3 linked regions of the Homo sapiens genome follow. The protein of the gene in region 1 purifies or fractionates together with the protein of each later gene. This does not show direct contact. Each region holds a gene or a part of one and is shown in the gene's direction. Other genes may lie near its edges.

The links.
Region 2: the proteins of TAFA2 (region 1) and TCTN2 purify together in Homo sapiens (affinity purification with mass spectrometry; one large-scale study listed by BioGRID and IntAct). This does not show direct contact.
Region 3: the proteins of TAFA2 (region 1) and LARGE1 purify together in Homo sapiens (affinity purification with mass spectrometry; one large-scale study listed by BioGRID and IntAct). This does not show direct contact.

Annotation. Positions count from the first base shown.
Region 1 is NC_000012.12:62,186,118-62,189,773, reverse strand, and holds part of TAFA2 (chemokine-like protein TAFA-2 precursor), read left to right. Parts: intron 1-3,656. UniProt on the Homo sapiens protein: Has a role as neurotrophic factor involved in neuronal survival and neurobiological functions.
Region 2 is NC_000012.12:123,705,350-123,708,899, forward strand, and holds the end of TCTN2 (tectonic-2 isoform 1 precursor), read left to right. Parts: intron 1-1,376; coding exon 1,377-1,502; intron 1,503-1,635; coding exon 1,636-1,724; intron 1,725-2,254; coding exon 2,255-2,364; 3' UTR 2,365-3,050; downstream 3,051-3,550.
Region 3 is NC_000022.11:33,644,469-33,648,124, reverse strand, and holds part of LARGE1 (xylosyl- and glucuronyltransferase LARGE1), read left to right. Parts: intron 1-3,656. UniProt on the Homo sapiens protein: Bifunctional glycosyltransferase with both alpha-1,3-xylosyltransferase and beta-1,3-glucuronyltransferase activities involved in the maturation of alpha-dystroglycan (DAG1) by glycosylation leading to DAG1 binding to laminin G-like domain-containing extracellular proteins with high affinity.

The DNA of each region.
Region 1 (3,656 bases):
TGTCAATTAACACTCCTAAACTGCTTTATTAGGCATATAAGTTAAGACAAATGAACAATTAATTTAAGATTTTTGTGTAAAGTGCTAAACCAAAATAACCAGGAAAGGAGATTAAAAACACTTCTAAAGCTTTAAAAATCAGAAGATTAAGATTATTTGTACTTACCCCAGCCTTTCCATGTTTGCATTTGTACTCTCAGACTGATTAATCATTTGCAATATCAAAATTGGCACCTAACATCCTATATTTCAAATAAAAGATCAGACATGTTTGTCTCTTTCCTTACTTTATTTTGTTTTGAATCTCATCCTGAGTCAATTGTTTGAGTTGACCTTTCTTTTTAGAATCTTAATTTTTAAAGCCACCAGTAGCCACTTAAAGGCCATCAGTTACCACACTGGAGCTTATAAATATTTTCATTTTCCTAATTTTCAATAAAAAAGTTGGATTGTATTATTTATAGATACTAAAAGTCCGTGAGGTTGATGTCACTGCCAACTGAATACTTAGGCACAGGGAATCTTTTAAGAGGCAAATGGCTTTAGTGTGTTGTTTTATTCAGATTAGGCATTTTTTTTTTTATGTGAAAATCTTGATTCTTTTCTTGCCTTTAAAAAATTTAGTACTTTAGGATGCTTGAATTCATATTTATGTAGAGTGCTACGATATGTGTCTCTTAAAGATGAACCCAGAATTTTTGACATTAAAGCAAATGCCTATATAATGCTACAGGTTCTGCTAAAGGGGAATTAAGGCTTCTAAGTATATGTGATATTGCATTAGAAAAATATTAGCTATTTTAACAATGACAAATTGGAGAATGAAGATTCATTGAGTTGCCTATGGATTTATGTAAAAATAGATTACATATTGCTTAGAGATGGCAATATGGTATTTACTAACCACCAAGTTATAAAATGTGATGACATGGCTGTAAAAATATGTTTTTAGATATGGCCAGTTTTCCTATTTAAAAATTTATAAAATGATAAAATTTAGAGGGTGGTAGAAAAATTTAAAAATTATTTTATATTTTATCAGAAAATGTTAGTAGTCCTGGATCCAGTGTCTTCAATGTAGTATTTTGATGATCATTTTTAAATGTATTTTTGTGTTAAAATACACATTTAAGGATGATTTATCACTAATTGCAAGTTATGGATTACCTTATACAGGAAGGGTAAGATATGTATCTTCAGGATTTCTCAGTCATTTCTTATCTTGGCCCCTAAGAAAAGGTCCTGTCAGATTGCACCAAAGTTCAGCAATCACTGCAAACTGATGAACATTTACTGACGAACTCTCTAATGCATGTCCCAAACAAGGAATGTTCCAAAGTGTCATCAGTTATTTCTAATATATTTGAAAAGATGAAACAACCAGAGTGCAAACAGTTCAGTGCCCCTGCTTTTACTTCTGCAGTATTTTATTAGGGATGCCTCATTAAGTCACATTTTTCTGCAGCTGTTTTGTTCATTGAAGATTCAAGTAAAAATAAGGAACCTTACTGTGCAATGCAGTTTTGTTTTCTTGGTGAAAAATCACAACTTGGGGTAAAATAATCATCCAAGCCGTCATCCCCTTTGATCTATGCCTGACATTTGCAAATGCAATTCATCAACCTGTTATTAGTAGGGCTTCATCGAAACAAAGAGAAGAAATGCATTAACACAGCCTGCTGCTAGATATGAAGGCCAAACCAGCTGCATCAACTTCATATCTGGCCACATGCTTACACAAAATTTCACATGATATAGCCTGCTTTTGGACCACTGATTTTATAATGCCATGTAATATGGTGAATTTACCATCTTATTTGAAAATTCTTTGGTTAACTTTATTTTGAACTACTTTGAGCATATTGAACTATTTAATTATTCCATCGAAAGAGAAGAAATAATTTCACACTGAGTTACCATTAGTCTTTAGAAAACAGTTTTACTTTAGGTTCGGAGCACAATCTGAAACAGGAGATTGACAGGTGAGCCCAGCAAACAGAGACATAGAAGTTAGTTTCTGTTTTTTAATTGTCATTGGCCACTGACTTATTGGGTAATTTTTAGAAGGTCTGATTTTGTTCATTCAGTGCAGTGATTCATTCAGTGCAGTGTCGTCAATGAAATAAACAATTCTTGTCTTCTTAATCTTACAGAAATTTTAAGAGGATAAGTTAGACATATTGGAATGTGAAAGTATTTAAATATATTTCTCTGTAGTACCTAACAATATAATCTCTGTATCTATACATATATGCACATGCATACATACATACATACATACATATGCTTTAAATGACACCCATGTAAAATACTGGTTTTACGTAACAGGGTGATCAGAACAACTTTGTAGAATGTCTGCCTTTATAGGTGCATAGTTTTTCCACTATTTTCCATGATTTGACTTGCAGTACAACTGTATGCATAGTGTGACAACGTCATTTATAACTGAGTTTTACTGTTTGAGCCATTGTTAATACATTCTATTTTTCTCATGAATTTTTCTTTTGGAGATACTTTTATTTACTAGGCTACAAATGCAAAAAAAATCATTTTTGTCCTCAATGCGGAGACACTGTGGATGTTTTTATTGACACTACAACTGGGAATTTTGACACATTTTGAACGCTGAACATATCTGTGTGCTGCTGTCTTTATTGAATATACACCTCCATAGTCAATGCACAAACTATGTATTACATTGGCGTGTACTATTCTCGTTTAAAATGGTATCTACAAAATTGCCAGAAATATATTGATATCATACTCCAAATTTATGTTAGTTTTCCAAAATCCACCTGTTTCTAATGTGTATACCACATGGATATGTTGGATTTTATCCTGTGCTGTAATATTAGGCAAGCTAGTCAGTGGAATACTTAGGCAATTGATTGGTATTGCCATTGGAAAACATAAGGTTTCTAGTTTACTTGAAATCAGATGAAGAGTAAATATTTAAGCTGTAAGAAGAATACTCTATTTTGTTCAGTGGTTCATGTGGAGTATGAGATATATAACTAAGGAATCAGAGCTTATATGTTTATATTAGATAAAGTCCTTTTAATCACTTCCTTCAATCTCCTAAGTTACTCCATAGTAGCTGTAATTGTTTTATGATTTCCCCTGAATGGCTAGTTAGCAAAGTTACATCTCCCTTTCCCCAGCAATAGTACAAACATAGTCATTCAATTAAATTTATATTTATATTGCTTCTTTTAAACGTAGCTTTATGCAGTAGATTTTGGAAACTCTACAGAGAGATTCAATAATGTGATAATGTTGCATTCTAGCAATTACGGTGATAGGCTGAATTTAGTAATTTGACAAAATGAAGAGAACCAGCTGAACAAGTCTCCTGTACTATGTAAAGCTAACTCTCTACATGAAGCCTGGAAAGTTCAAAGTAGTTTTTGATGAATGCAAGGTTTGTTTTACTAAATATAAATAAATATATATATATTTGCTGCTACAAACTAGTCACTGCATAATTGCATGCATGTGAATGGGCAACGGTGTTGCCCTTTAAAGGTCATGCAAACATTCTGAACCTTTCAATTTTCAGTGTTAATTGCCTATGGCCTCCTGTAGCTGCACATGGAACTTTCTGTTGAGTTTAATAATAAAGAAAAACACTTTGACTTTCTTTGGGTGGATTATGC
Region 2 (3,550 bases), about 62 Mb from region 1:
ACAGGGTTTCACCCTGTTGGCCAGGATGGTCTCAATCTCCTGACCTCATGATCCGCCCGCCTCGGCCTCCCAAAGTGCTGGGATTACAGGCATGAGCCACCGCGCCCAGCCTGCCTCCATCGGTTTTAAGTGACAGGCGCCCAGTTCATACTGACTTAAGCAAAAAGGGGAGTTTATTGGTTCAAGTTCAGAGTAATCCACATACAGCTAGTTCATGGTTCATGGTTCCAGTGTGGTCAGGGATCTTTTTGTTTTCGTATCTCAGCTCCTCTTCCTTTGGGTTGGCTTCATTCTCAGGGAGGTTCTCCTCAAGAGATGGCAAAGATCAGCACCAGCAATCCAGGCTTATGTCACTGCAGCAAGTCCAGTGGGGAGAAAGCCCCTTTCCTCCTCTTTCCTTTCTTTCTTTCTTTTTTTTTTTTTTGAGACGGAGTTTTGCTCTTGTTGCCCAGGCTGGAGTGCAGTGGTGCCATCTTGGCTCACTGCAACCTCCACCAACCGGGTTCAAGCGATTCTCCTGCCTCAGCCTCCTAAGTAGCTGAGGTTACAAGCATGTGGCACCTCGCCTGGCTAATTTTGTATTTTTAGTAGAGATGGGGTTTCTCCATGTTGGTCAGGCTGGTCTTGAACTCCCAACCTGAGGTGATCTGCCTGCCTCAGCCTCCCAAAGTGCTGGGATTACAGGCATGAGTCACCGTGCCCGGCCCCTCCTCTTTCTCAAAATAGATCTGGGCAGACTTTTATTGGTTCAGTTTAGGTCATGTGCTCCTTTCTGAACCAATCCCTATGACTGGGGCAATGGACAGCTCTTATTGGCTAGGCTCAGGTGATGGGTGCACCTCTGGATTAGGGCCAATTCCTTCTGCTCCACTGAACTGGAAATGGAGAGTGGTGGCTCTGCAAGGGAAAATGGGAGTGCAGTTACCACCTCCGCAGTACTCTTCTGAGGATAACATGAGATGGTGTGTTGCAAGCAAGTTATCTCTGTGCCTCGAACGTGGAAAGCCCTCAATAAGTGGCTAGCTGCTGCTTTTATTATTATATTGTTTGAGAAAAACAGGTGATGAACAAAGGTACCTTTGATAGCACCTGTATACAATGCACTGGCTGGAGAGGAGTGAGACTGACAACAAGACTGGCAGATGTTGCTGGGCGACAGGCCCATGAGGGGTTATTAGGAGTTTCTCTTCTCTTTGGATCTGTCTGTGGAAATGGTCAAAGACCATGGACAAATACTGAGAAAAAACAGCCCAGGTAGAATGCGAAACTTCTTAGGAGAACCTCAGGTTATATTGTGATTGCATCCGTTACCTGCTGTTCTTGGTGGAATAGAACTGAATGGTGGCTATGCTGACCATGTGATCTTTCCCTCCTAGGTTCTCCTCAGTGAACTGGCAGTACCAGTGTGGGCTTACCTGTGAGCACAAGGCCGACCTTCTCCCTATCAGTGCATCCGTCCAGTTTATTAAAATTCCTGCACAGTTACCCCACCCCCTGACAAGGTACTCCAGTTGCTCACCTAGTTGACATTAGGAAGCAGAAAAATATATATTTGAAAATTGGAAGTTTATTCCTTTAATCAAGTTCTGATACTTCTCACTTGTAGTTTTTGTAACCCTCTAAAATGTTTTCTAGATTCCAGATCAATTATACAGAGTATGACTGCAACAGAAATGAGGTGTGTTGGCCGCAGCTTCTATATCCATGGACTCAGTATTATCAAGGTAGGGTGAAACAGATTTCTATGACCAATTATGTTATGTCAATTTAAAAAAATTTTTTAAATGATGTCTAAATGTTACAGAAAGCATAAAACATATAGAAACTTAAAAAAAAGTACGGATAATATTGCCACTTGGAAGTGATCACCATTACTGTTTTGGCTTAGTTTATTTCTACCTACACTGTTTTTTTTTTTAGAGAGTCTTGCTCTGACACCCTGGCTGGAGTGCAGTGGCACAATCTCAGCTCACTGCAACCATTGCCTCCTGGGTTCAGACAACTCTCGTGCCTCAGCCTTTGGAGTAGCTGGGATTACAGCACCAATATGCCTGGCTATTTTTGTATTTTTAGTAGAGACGGGGTTTCACTGTGCTGGCCAGGCTGGTCTCGAACTGGCCTCAAGTGATCCGCCCTCCTTGGCCTCCCAAAGTGTTAGGATTACAGGAGTGAGCCACCACACCCAGCCTATACCTACACTGTTATCAAAAGAGTTAAGAAATACTGCTGTTGAATTTTGTCCATTGTTTTTCAGGGGAGCTGCATTCTCAGTGTGTTGCTAAGGGCTTACTGTTGCTGTTGTTCCTCACATTGGCCTTGTTCCTCAGCAACCCCTGGACCAGAATATGCAAAGCCTATAGTTAGACAACCACCTGGCTTTTATTTTTTTGAGATGGAGTTTTGCTCTTGTTGCCCAGGCTGAAGTGATCTCGGCTCACCACAACCTCCTCCTCTTGGGTTCAAGCGATTCTCCTGCCTCAGCCTCCGGAGAACTGGGATTACAGGCATGCACCACCACGCCCGGCTAATTTTGTATTTTTAGTAGAGACAGGGTTCCACCGTATTGGCCAGGCTGCTCTCGAACTCCTGACCTCATGATCCGCCCATCTTGGCCTCCCAAAGTGCTGAGATTACAGGCATGAGCCACCGCACCCGGCCTTTTTTTTTTTTTTTTTTTTTTTGAGGCGGGGTCTCTGTCACCCAGGCTGGAGTGCAGTGCACAATCTCGGCTCACTGCAATCTCTGCCTCCCAAGCAATCCTCCCACCTCAGCCTCTGGTGTAGCTGGGACCACAGATGCTCCACCATGCCTGGCTGTATTTTTGGTAAAGACGGGGTTTCGCCTTGTTGCCCAGGGTGGTCTGTAACTCCTGAGCTCAGATGATCTGCCCACCTCGGCCTCCCAAAGTGCTGGGATCACAGACGTGAGCCACTGCGTCCGGTCCATCTGACTTCTCAAAGACTTTAGACCTTGACTTCAGTGATTTGTTGTAGTCTTGTATGCTTCTCTATAAAATTTTAATAAATGAAATGTCTTATTTTTGTAGAAAATTTTTATTAAGTGCCCTGTGACTTTAATTCATATATGTAGCTATCCAATGCAGAATGAATATTCTCATCGCTGGCCTGAACTGAGTAAAATGCATGAGAAGAACTCAAAAATGTTAGAAATTTTAGCTTATCACAAATTAGTTAAAGTCATAGGAGTTTTATTTATACCAGAGAGAATCAGTCTTTTCTTTAGTTTTTAATACATTCGTGTTGATTGATGTTTCCCATATTCCGTAGAAAGGATTAAGAAATCCTTAAAAATGCATGTAATACAAAAACACAAAATCACTGATGGGGAAAGATATGGGGGCTGCGGGAGGAAAATAATAAGAGAAAAGTAAAACAAAACCAGGGGCACATGTAAGCCCTAAAATACATGCCAGAGGTTGCCTTTAGCAGAAGCAGGCCCCTAATTCATTATTTATTTATTTGTTTTTTGGAGACAGGTTCTCCCTCTGTTGCCCAGGCTGGAGTGCAGTGGCACGATTATAGCTCACTGT
Region 3 (3,656 bases), on another chromosome or scaffold:
GAGCAAGTAAGATCACTTTTCTGTGGCTGTTTCCTCATTTGCAAACTGTGGATTAAAATCAAGTTCTGGGCCCGACACAGTGGCTCATGCCTGTAATCCCAGCACTTTGGGAGTCCGAGGTGGGTGGATCACAGGGTCAACAGATTGAGACCATCCCGGCCAACATGGTGAAACCCCGTCTCTACTAAAAATAGCAAAAATCAGCCGGATGTGGTGGCGCGCATCTGTAGTCCCAGCTACTTGGGAGGCTGAGGCAGGAGAATCGTTTAAACCCAGGAAGTGGAGATTGCAGTGAGCCGAGATGGTGCCACTGCACTCCAGCCTGGGTGACAGTGCAAAACTCCGTCTCAAAAGAAAAAAAAAATCAAGTTCCTGCCTTTTACTATTTCAGTGGTGACAATGGATATTGGAACTTGAGGGAAATTCTAATGTAGTTAGTTGTATCAGTCTTAGATTTCACTGCAGGTTATCAAAAATCCCAACTAACACTGGCTTAAGCAAGATTTGCATCTTGTTTCTCATTGTGTTTAAGATGTCTGGAGGCCATCAGTGTAGGGATGGCAGTATTGGGATTTCTTTATCTTTCACCCCAGCCTGCTTGATTGACATTCCCAAGGTCATCTCATGACCCATAATGATTGTCAGAGCTTTAGCTATGTTGTCCACATTCCAGCTGGCAGGAAAGAAGTGTTAAGGTGGGACATACCACTTTCCTTAAAGAACGTATCTTGGAAATTTCACACTTCAGATCCTTTTAGATCCTATTGACACAACTTAGTTACAGGGATACCCTTAGCTGCCACCTAGGTCCAAGAGAGCCTGGAACAGATAGATTTTACTCAAGGAAGCCATGTTTTTCTGGAACATTCTGGAGTTCTGTTACTGTGGTCACAGTGAACCATGTCTGTCACATGGGTGGTTCTCAAACTTGGTTGTGTGTTAGAATTACATATCAAAAATGTGTATCCATGAGACCTACCCCAGACCTACTGACTAAGAATCTCTGGGAGTAGCCCCTGAGAATACAGATATTTAACAAAAGAATATATCCAGATGATTCTAAGATAGGAGAGATTGTTTGGAAACCACTGCTTTAGGCTGGACACAGTGGCTCACGCCTATAATCCCAGCACTTTGGCAGGCCAAGGCGGGTGGATCACCTGAGTTCAGGAGTTTCAGACCAGCCTGGCCAACATGGTGAAACCCTGTTTCTACTAAAAATACAAAAAAATAGCTGGGCGTGGTGGAGGGTGCCTGAAATCCCAGCTACTTGGGAGGCTGAGGCAGGAGAATCGTTTGAACCTGGGAGGCGGAGGTTGCAGTGAGCTGAGGTCATGCCATTGCACTCCAGCCTGGGCAATAGAGCGAGACTCCGTCTCAAAAAAACAAAACAAAACAAAAAAAGGAAACCACTGCTTTAAGGAGCAGCACATAGGATTGATGAATTTTCTTTATCCCTGTGTTCCTTGAAACATAAAACAGTCATATAGGAATTCAGATCTTGAACTCGTTGACTTTTTTTTTTTTAAACTTTAAATTCTGGAGTACATGTGCAGAATGTGCAGGTTTGTTACATAGGTATACATGTGCCATGGTTGGTTTACAGTACCTATCAACCATCATCTAGGTTTTATGCCCCACATATATTAGGTATTTGTCCTAGTGCTCTCCCTCCCCTTGCCCCGCCCCTCAACAGGTCCCAGTGTGTGATGTTCCCCTCCCTGTGTCCATGCTTTCTCATTGTTCAACTCCCACTTACGAGAGAGAACATGTGGTGTTTGGTTTTCTGTTCCTGTGTTAGTTTGCTGAGAATGCTGTTTTCCAGCTTCATTCATGTCCCCACAAAGGACATGAACTCATTCTTTTTTATGGCCGCATAGTATTCCATGGTGTATATGTGCCACATTTTCTTTATCCAGTCTATCATTGATGGGCATTTGGGTTGGTTCCTAGTCTTTGCTATTGTGAATAGCACTGCAGTTAACATACGTGTGTGTGTCTTTATGGCAGAATGATTTATAATCCTTTGGGTATATACCCAGTAGATTGCTGGGTCAAATGGTATTTCTGGTTCTAGATCCTTGAGGAATCACCACATTGTCTTCCACAATGATTGAACTTATTTACATCCCCACCAACAGTGTAAAAGCGTTCCTATTTCTCCACATCCTTTCCAGCATCTGTTATTTCCTGACTTTTTAATGATCGCCATTCCAACTGGCATGAGATGGTATCTCATTGTGGTTTTGATTTGCATTTCTTTGATGACCAGTGATGCTGAGCTTTTCTTCATATGTTTGTTGGCCGTATAAGTGTCTTCTTTTGAGAAGTGTCTCTTCATACCTTCGCCACTTTTTGATGGGGTCATTTGTTTTTTCTTGTTAATTTGTTTAAGTTCCTTGTAGATTCTGGATATTAGCCCTTTGTCAGATGGATAGGTTGCAAAAATTTTCTCCCATTCTGTAGGTTGCCTGTTTACTCTGATGATAGTTTCTTTTGCTGTGCAGAAGCTCTTTAGTTTAATTAGATCCCATTTGTCAATTTTGGCTTTTGTTGCCACTGCTTTTGGTGTTTCAGTCATGAAGTCTTTGCCCATGACTATATCCTGAATGGTATTGCCTAGGTTTTCTTCTAGGGTTTTTATGGTTTTAGGTCTTATGTTTAAGTCTTTAATCCATCTTGAGTTAATTTTTGTATAAGGTGTAAGGAAGGGGTCCAGTTTCAGTTTTCTGCATATGGCTAGCCAGTTTTTCCAGCACCATTTATTAAATAGGAAATCCTTTCCCTATTTCTTGTTTTTGTCAGGTTTGTCAAAGATCAGATAGTTGTAAATGTGTGGTTAATTTCTGCGGCCTCTGTTCTGTTTCATTGGTCTATATATCTGTTTTGGTACCAGTACCATGCTGTTTTGGTTACTGTAGCCTTGTAGGAGTACCATGCTGCTTTGGTTACTGTAGCCTTGTAGTATAGTTTGAAGTCAGGTAGCATAATGCCTCCAGCTTTGTTCTTTTTGCTTAAGATTGTCTTGGCTAGATGGGCTCTTTTTTGGTTCCATATGAAATTTAAAGTAGTTTTTTCTAATTCTTTGAAGAAAGTCAATGGTAGCTTGATGGGAATAGCATTGAATATATAAATTACTTCGGGCAGTATGGCCACTTTCACAATATTGATTTTCCTATCCATGAGCATGGAATGTTTTTCCATTTGTTTGGGTCCTCTCTTATTTCCTTGAGCAGTGGTTTGTAGTTCTTGAAGAGGTCCTTCATAACCCTTATAAGTTGTATTCCTCAGTATTTTATGTTCTTTGTAGCAATTGTGAATGGGAGTTCACTCATGATTTGGCTCTCTGTTTGTCTGTTATTGGTGTATAGGAGTGCTTGTGATTTTTTCACCTTGGTTTTGTATCCTGAGATTTTGCTGAAGTTGCTTATCAGCTTAAGGAGTTTTGGGCTGAGAAGATGGGGTTTTCTAAATATATAATCATGTCATCTGCAAACAGAGAGAATTTCACTTCCTTACTTCCTGTTTGAATACCCTTTAATTCTTTCTCTTGCTTGATTGCCCTGGCCAGAACTTCCAACACTATGTTAAATAGGAGTGATGAGAGAGGGCATCCTTGTCTTGTGCCAGTTTTCAAAGGGAATGCTTCCAGCTTT